Linked DNA regions of Homo sapiens. The protein of the gene in region 1 purifies or fractionates together with the protein of each later gene. This does not show direct contact. Each region holds a gene or a part of one and is shown on either strand. Other genes may lie near its edges.

Evidence for each region. Proteins that work in one complex are often made in the same cells at the same time.
Region 2: the proteins of PRPSAP2 (region 1) and BTK purify together in Homo sapiens (co-immunoprecipitation; one large-scale study listed by IntAct). This does not show direct contact.

What each region holds. Positions count from the first base shown.
Region 1 is NC_000017.11:18,878,631-18,882,130, reverse strand, and holds part of PRPSAP2 (phosphoribosyl pyrophosphate synthase-associated protein 2), read right to left. Parts: intron 1-3,500. UniProt on the Homo sapiens protein: Seems to play a negative regulatory role in 5-phosphoribose 1-diphosphate synthesis.
Region 2 is NC_000023.11:101,379,692-101,383,191, forward strand, and holds part of BTK (tyrosine-protein kinase BTK), read right to left. Parts: intron 1-3,500. UniProt on the Homo sapiens protein: Non-receptor tyrosine kinase indispensable for B lymphocyte development, differentiation and signaling. Binding of antigen to the B-cell antigen receptor (BCR) triggers signaling that ultimately leads to B-cell activation.

The sequences.
Region 1 (3,500 bases):
ACTGTGGCTCACGCCTGTAATCCCAGCACTTTGGGAGGGCGAGGTGGGTGGATCACAAGGTCAGGAGTTCAACGCCAGCCTGACCAATATGATGAAACCCCATCTTTACTAAAAATACAAAAATTAGCTGGGCGTGGTGGCGTGTGCCTGTAGTCCCAGCTACTTGGGAGGCTGAGGCAGAAGAATAGCTTGAATCCGGGAGGCAGAGGTTGCAGTGAGCCAAGATCATGCCACTGCACTCCAGCCTGGGTGACAGAGCAAGACTCCGTCTCAAAAAAAAAAAAAAAATTGCTCTCATGGCCGGGCACAGTGGCTCACGCCTGTAATCCTAGCACTTTGAAGGCCAAGGCTGACAAACTGCTTGAGCTCAGGAGTTTGAGATCAGCCTGGGGAACATGGCAAAACCCCGCCTCTACAAAACAAAAATTAGCCAGGCATGGTGGCGCACATCTGTAGTCCCAGATACTCAGGAGGCTAAGGTGGGAGAATCGCTTCAGTGCAGAAGGTCAAGGCTGCAAGTGAGCTGAGATTGAGCCACTGCATTCCAGTCTGGGTGACAGAGTGAGATCTTGCCTCAAAAAAATAAAAAATAAGGCCGGACACGGTGGCTCACGCCTGTAATCCCAGCACTTTGGGAGGCCGAGGCGGGTGGATCACCTGAGGTCAGGAGTTGGAGACCAGCCTGGCCAACATGGCGAAACCTCATCTCTACTAAAAACACAAAAATTAGCCAGGCATGGTGGCACGTGCCCATAATCCCAGCTACTCGGGAGGCTGAGGCAGGAGAATTCGCTTGAACCTGGGGGGGCGGAGGTTGCAGTGAGCCGAGATCGCACCACTTCACTCCGACCTGGGTGAAAGGGGGAGACTTGGTCTCAAAAAAAAAAAGACAAAATTGTTCTACCATCAAAAAAACTCAGCACTTGTATTTTTCAAAAAAAATTTTTTTTTTTTTAGTACTGTGAGATGCCTGATTTTCACATCAATTTAAAGTCTTGGTCAGGTGCGATGGCTCACAGCTGTAATCCCAGCACTTTGGAAGGCTGAGGCAGGCGGATCACCTGAGGTCAGGAGTTCAAGACCAGCCTGGCCAACACGGTGAAACCCCGTCTCTACTAAAAATACAAAAATTAGCCAAGTGTGGTGGCATGTGCCTGTAATCTCAGCTTCTAGGGAGGCTGAGGCAGGAGAATCACTTGAATCCAGGAGGTGGAGGTTGCAGTGAGCTGAGATCATGCCACTGCACTCCAGCCTGGGCGACAGAGCGAGACTCCATCTCGAAAAAATAAATAAATAAAAAATAGTCATAATATAGCAAAGATAACAGTAATACAGAAGAGTCTTTAAAAATTATATTAGAGCAGATCAAATCTTCTTGAAGTTTAACAGGCATGGCAAAGTCCAGTCTTAAGATAACAAGTCAGCCGGGTGTGGTGGCTCATGCCTGTAAACCCAGCACTTTGGGAGGCCGAGGCAGGAGTATCACTTGAGCCCAGGTGTTTGAAAATGGCCTGGGCCACATGGTGAGACTCCATTTCTACTAAAAATACAAAAAACTAGTCAGGTATGGTGATGCATGCCTGTAGTCCCTAGTTACTCTGGAAGCTAAGGTCGGAGGATCACTTGAACCCAGGAGGTCAAGGCTACCTCCTGGTAGTGAGCAGTGATCACACCACTGCACCCCAGCCCGGGCAAGAGGACTGAGACCCATGGGGAAAAAAAAAGATATCAAGACAAACTGCACCAGCCTGGAAATTGGAGAAAACAGAAAACCTTCACCACCTTTGTAACGATCACCAGAAAAGTGTAAGGAAAATTCAGTATGAAAAATTGTTTAAAGCATTACTTGCCCAAAAGAACAGGAAAGTAAGTCTGGAGGCCCATCAAGCAAGGCTGGTAGAGAAGATGGGCCCTTTCCTGAAGATTCAGCAGGCAAGCCTGCTCTCCTCACCAGCTGCCTGTCATAGTGTTTACAATGGGGTAGGCTCCTGAGGTTGCTTCGGGTTGAGTTTTTAATTTTATTTTTATTTTTTTGAGACGGAGTTTTGCTCTTGTTGCCCAGGCTGGAGTGCAACGGCATGATCTTGGTTCACCACAACCTCCACCTCCCGGGTTCAAGCAATTCTCCTGCCTCAGACTCCCGAGTAGCTGGGATTACAGGCATGTGTCACCACACCCGGCTAATTTTGTATTGTTAGTAGAGACGGGGTTTTTCCATGTTGGTTAGGCTGCTCTGAACTCCCAACCTCAGGTGATCGCCCCCTGGTTCTCCCAAAGTGCTGGGATTACAGGCGTGAGCCACCACACCCTGCCTAGTTTTTAAATGTTTGTTTTACGTTTGCCTTTACTGAAAAACTATCTTAGAAAGTTTATTCTGGGCTGGGCGTGGTGGCTCACGCCTGTAATCCCAACACTTTGGGAGGCTGAGGAAGGTGGATCACCTGAGGTCAAGAGTTCGAGACAAGCATGGCCAACATGGTGAAACCTCGTCTCTACTAAAAATACAAAAATTAGCCAGGCGTGGTGGTGGGCGCCAGTAATCCCAGCTACTCAGGAGGCTGAGGCAGGTGAATCGCTTAAACCCAGGAAGTGGAGGTTGCGGTGAGCCGAGATCACGCTACTGCACTCCAGCCTGGATGACAGGTGAGACTCAAAAATAAAAAATAAAAATAATAATAATTAGTTGGGCATGTTGGTGTGTGCCTGCAATCCCAGCTACTCTGGGGGCTGAGGCAGGAGAATTGCTTGAACCCGGGTGGTGGAGGTTGCAGTGAGCCAAGATCACGTCATTGCACTCCAGACTGGGCAACAGAGCAAGACTCCGTCTCAAAAAACAAACAAAAAAAAAGGTTTATTCTACAGTAAGTACCTGTCTTAAAATGCAGTGATATGGGGACTTTTATTCTATTCACTCTGTGCAAATGCTCCGTGATACATACCTTCTAAAATCATATACATTCAGGCTGGCTATGGTGGCTTGTGTCTGTAATCCCAGAATTTTAGGAGCCCAAAGCAGGTGGATCACTTGAGGTCAGGAGTTCGAGACCAGCCTGGCCAACATGGCAAAACCCCATCTCTACTAAAAATACAAAAATTAGCTGAGTGTGGTGGCAGGCACCTGTAGTCCCAGCTACTAGAGAAGCTAAGGTACAAAAATCGCTTGAACCCAGGAGACAGTGGTTGCAGTGAGCCGAGGTGCCACCACTGCACTCCAGCCTGGGCAACGGAGCAAGACTCCGTCTCAAAAAATAAATAAACAGAATAAAAATTAAAATAAAAAAATCATAGGCCGGGTGCAGTGGCTTACGCCTGTAATCCCAGCACTTTGGGAGTCTGAGGCGGGGTCGGGAGTTTGAGACCAGCCTGACCAACATGGAGAAACCCTGTCTCTACTAAAAATACAAAATTAGCCGGGCGTGGTGGCGCATGCCTGTAATCCCAGCTACTTGGGAGGCTGAGGCAGGAGAATCGCTTGAACCGGGGAGGTGGAGGTTGTGGTG
Region 2 (3,500 bases), on another chromosome or scaffold:
TGGCTATCATCAAAGAGCAGTTGTGACAAACTCCTCTCCATTTTCTAGGAATGTTCAGCAAGAGAGGAAATGGTGGTAAATACAGGAGATAAGAGAGTATTCAAGATCCTAAGCTCTTTCCTCTGCAATATTCCTCCAGGCTGGTAAGGATGATCTGTCTCTGGTAACTGTCAACTATACTTTTTTTGCACTTGAGGACTCTTCTTAGTCTTGCCAGGTTTTCTTACATTTTCCCTCTTTAAATCATTCCCAAGGAGATTCTGTCTAACTAGTGAATTTCTAGAGTCACTTGTTGTTTCCTTTCCTGGATGTTTCATTGTTGATGGAATGAAAGCACAGTGTTTAGGTGGAACATCCACCCTTCTCTGTCCCTAGGGTTCTTATTGCTTACTGTGAATATAAAACTTTGATCAAATATACCTTCTATTTTTTTGAGACAGGGTCTCACTCTGTCACCCAGGATGGAGTGCAGTAGCAAGATCACCACTCACTGCAGCCTCCACCTCCTGGGCTCAAGCGATCCTCCTGCCTCAGCCTCTCAAGTAGCTGGGACTACAGGTGTGCACTACCACACCCAGCTAATTTTTAATTTTTTTGTAGAGACACGGGTCTCACTTTGTTGCCTAGGCTAGTCTCAAACTCCTGGATGCAAGTGATCTTCTTGTCTCAGCCTTCCAAAGTGTGGGGATTACAGGCATGAGCTGCTGCACCTGGCCTCAAATATACTTTGTTTTATATTATGAAATATTTCAAATAGAAAGTACAGGGACTATAACATTACAATCTTGGACTCACCGCTTAGCTCTACAAAATCCTAAAATTGTGCCATATTGCCTCACGTGTTAAGAAGTGAGATACAATCTATATAATCAAGACCCCTTTATGTACTCCAAAATCTTAGTCTTCTCCCTCCATAGAGATTACCAATATCTTGAGTTTGGTGTTTATCATTCCTAGGTATGTTTTCATATTATTATTACAGATGTAAGTATCTATAAAAGATATATAGTATTGGTTTACATGTTTAAAATTTACATATGGCCAGGTGCGGTAACTCAGGCCTGTAATCCCAGCACTTTGGGAGGCTGAGGCGGGTGGATGACAAGGTCAGGAGTTTGAGAGCAGCCAGCCTGACCAACATGGAGAAACCCTGTCTCTACTAAAAATACAAAAACTAGCTGGGCCAACGCTACTCTCCCAGCTACTCAGGAGGCTGAGGCGGGAGAATCCCTTGAACCCGGGAGGCAGAGGTTGCAGTGAGCCGAGATCTTGCCATTGCACTCCAGCCTGGGCAACAAGAGTGAAACTCGGTCGCGAAAAAAAAAAAAAAAAAAAAAGAAAATTTATATATATATATATGGTACACATTCTCCAGCAACTTGCTTTTTTCCCCTCAATATAATATGTTAGGATTTATTTATCTGGCTAGTTCTACTTCATATGTTTTAATTCATTTTTATATGCATAAAATATTCTATATGATGAATACATTCCAATATATTTATTCATTCTCCTGTTGATGGACATTTAGGTTGTTTGCTTTCAGTGATAAACAATGCTGCTGTGAACATTATTTTGATTTTTTGATCTCAGAATGAATTCTCAGTTACTTAGACAAACTGGCAAACCTAGGTCCAGCTTATCTTTTGGACTATGCAATTTGCATCATTCCTTCTTGCCTTTTCAGTCCTGTCTTCCTGATGCTTCACTATGAAATGTGGTAGAATTATCAACTATCTCTAGTGGGAGGTTAAATTTGGCCTACGGAAAATCTCTTCCCAGTCCCAAGAAGCATCCTTCACGTTCTAACTGAGATTTCAATTGAGAATTCCTTGGCCTTGGGACCAGAAGAGAACGTGTTAAGAACTGAAATACTATCTATATAATCAAGACCCCTTTATGTACTCCAAAATCTTAGTCTTCTCCCTCCTTAGAGATTACCAATATCTTGAATTTGGTGTTTATCATTCCTAGGTACGTTTTCATATTATCATTACAGATGTAAATATCTATAAAAGATATACAGTATTGGTTTACATGTTTAAAATTTACATATGGCCACGTGTGGTAGCTCATGCCTGTAATCCCAGCACTTTGGGAGGCTGAGGCGGCTGGATGGCAAGGTCAGGAGTTTGAGAGCAGCCAGCCTGACCAACATGGAGAAACCCTGTCTCTACTAAAAATACAAAAATTAGCCTGGCGTGGTGGCGCGCACCTGTAATCCCAGTTACTCAGGAGGCTGAGGCAGGAGAATTGCTTGAACCCAGGAGGCGGAGGTTGCAGTGAGCCGAGATCGTGCCACTGCACTCCAGCCTGGGTGACAGAGTCAGACTCCGTCTCAAAAAAAAAAAAAAAGAAAAAAGAAAAAAAAATCATACCCACAGCAACAAAGCAACCTTTAATCTTGTTAAATTCCCAAGATGCTTTTGTTCGGGCCCCAGTGAAACCCAATTATTTTATGATAAGCTTCATAGTCAAGGCTACAGGGGACCAAATTTGTGATGAAGGCATCAAGCCAAACTCAATTTTCGAAAGCTGCATGCTGACCAGGGAAACTCTCCTGCTGTAGTCATTTACAGGAGGCCTTAGGGCTCTCTGGTTCTTCCACAGCAGTTCATGTTTTATTTATTTATTTATTTATTTATTTATTTTTGAGACAGAGTCTCGCTCTGTCATCCAGGCTTCGGTACAGTAGCGCAATCTTGGCTCACTGCAATCGCTACCTCCCAGTTTCAAGCAATTCTCTTGCCTCAGCCTCCTGAGTAGCTTGGACTACAGCCGCACACCATGACACCTGCCTCGGCCTCCCAAAATGCTGGGATTACAGGCTTGAGCCACCGCGCCTGGCCTTATGTTTTTAGCATTTTACATTTTTCTTCTGTGGTTTTGGAAACTTCTAGGTCTCTGTGATTCATCATCTCTTTTTGTCTTGCATTAGCGACAATATATTCTGGCCAACTGATGATGGAAGGAGAGCCAGAGAGCCAATCTGCAAGTTTATAGTCAGTGCCAGATCAGATCAGTGGTAATACTTTCAATATTCTCCCTCTGCTCTGAGGGTGACTGCTGGGGTGTCTGTCTTTCACTCTGGACTTGTGTGCCCTTTTGGCCTTCTTTTTCAACCTAGTTTTTGTTTTCCTTGGCTTAAACATTTTATTTATTTTTTCCATCGATATCAAAATAACACACGCAGCTGGGTGCAGTGGGGTGCACCTGTAGTCCCAGCTACTCAGGAGGCTGATATTGGAGGATTGCTTGAGCCCAAGAGTTCAAGGTCAGCCTGAGAAACATAGGGAGACCCCCATCTCAAAATAAAACAAAATATAGTAAAATAAAACATGCTTATTGTAGAAAATATGTCAAGTACAGGGATATAAAAAAGAAAAAATCATTCATAAACTCATCCAGAGGCATTAATATATCGGCATATTCCTTCCATTTTTTTCTGTGTGTGTTTCTTATAATATTTGAGATCATATTGCACATTCAGTTAATTTACC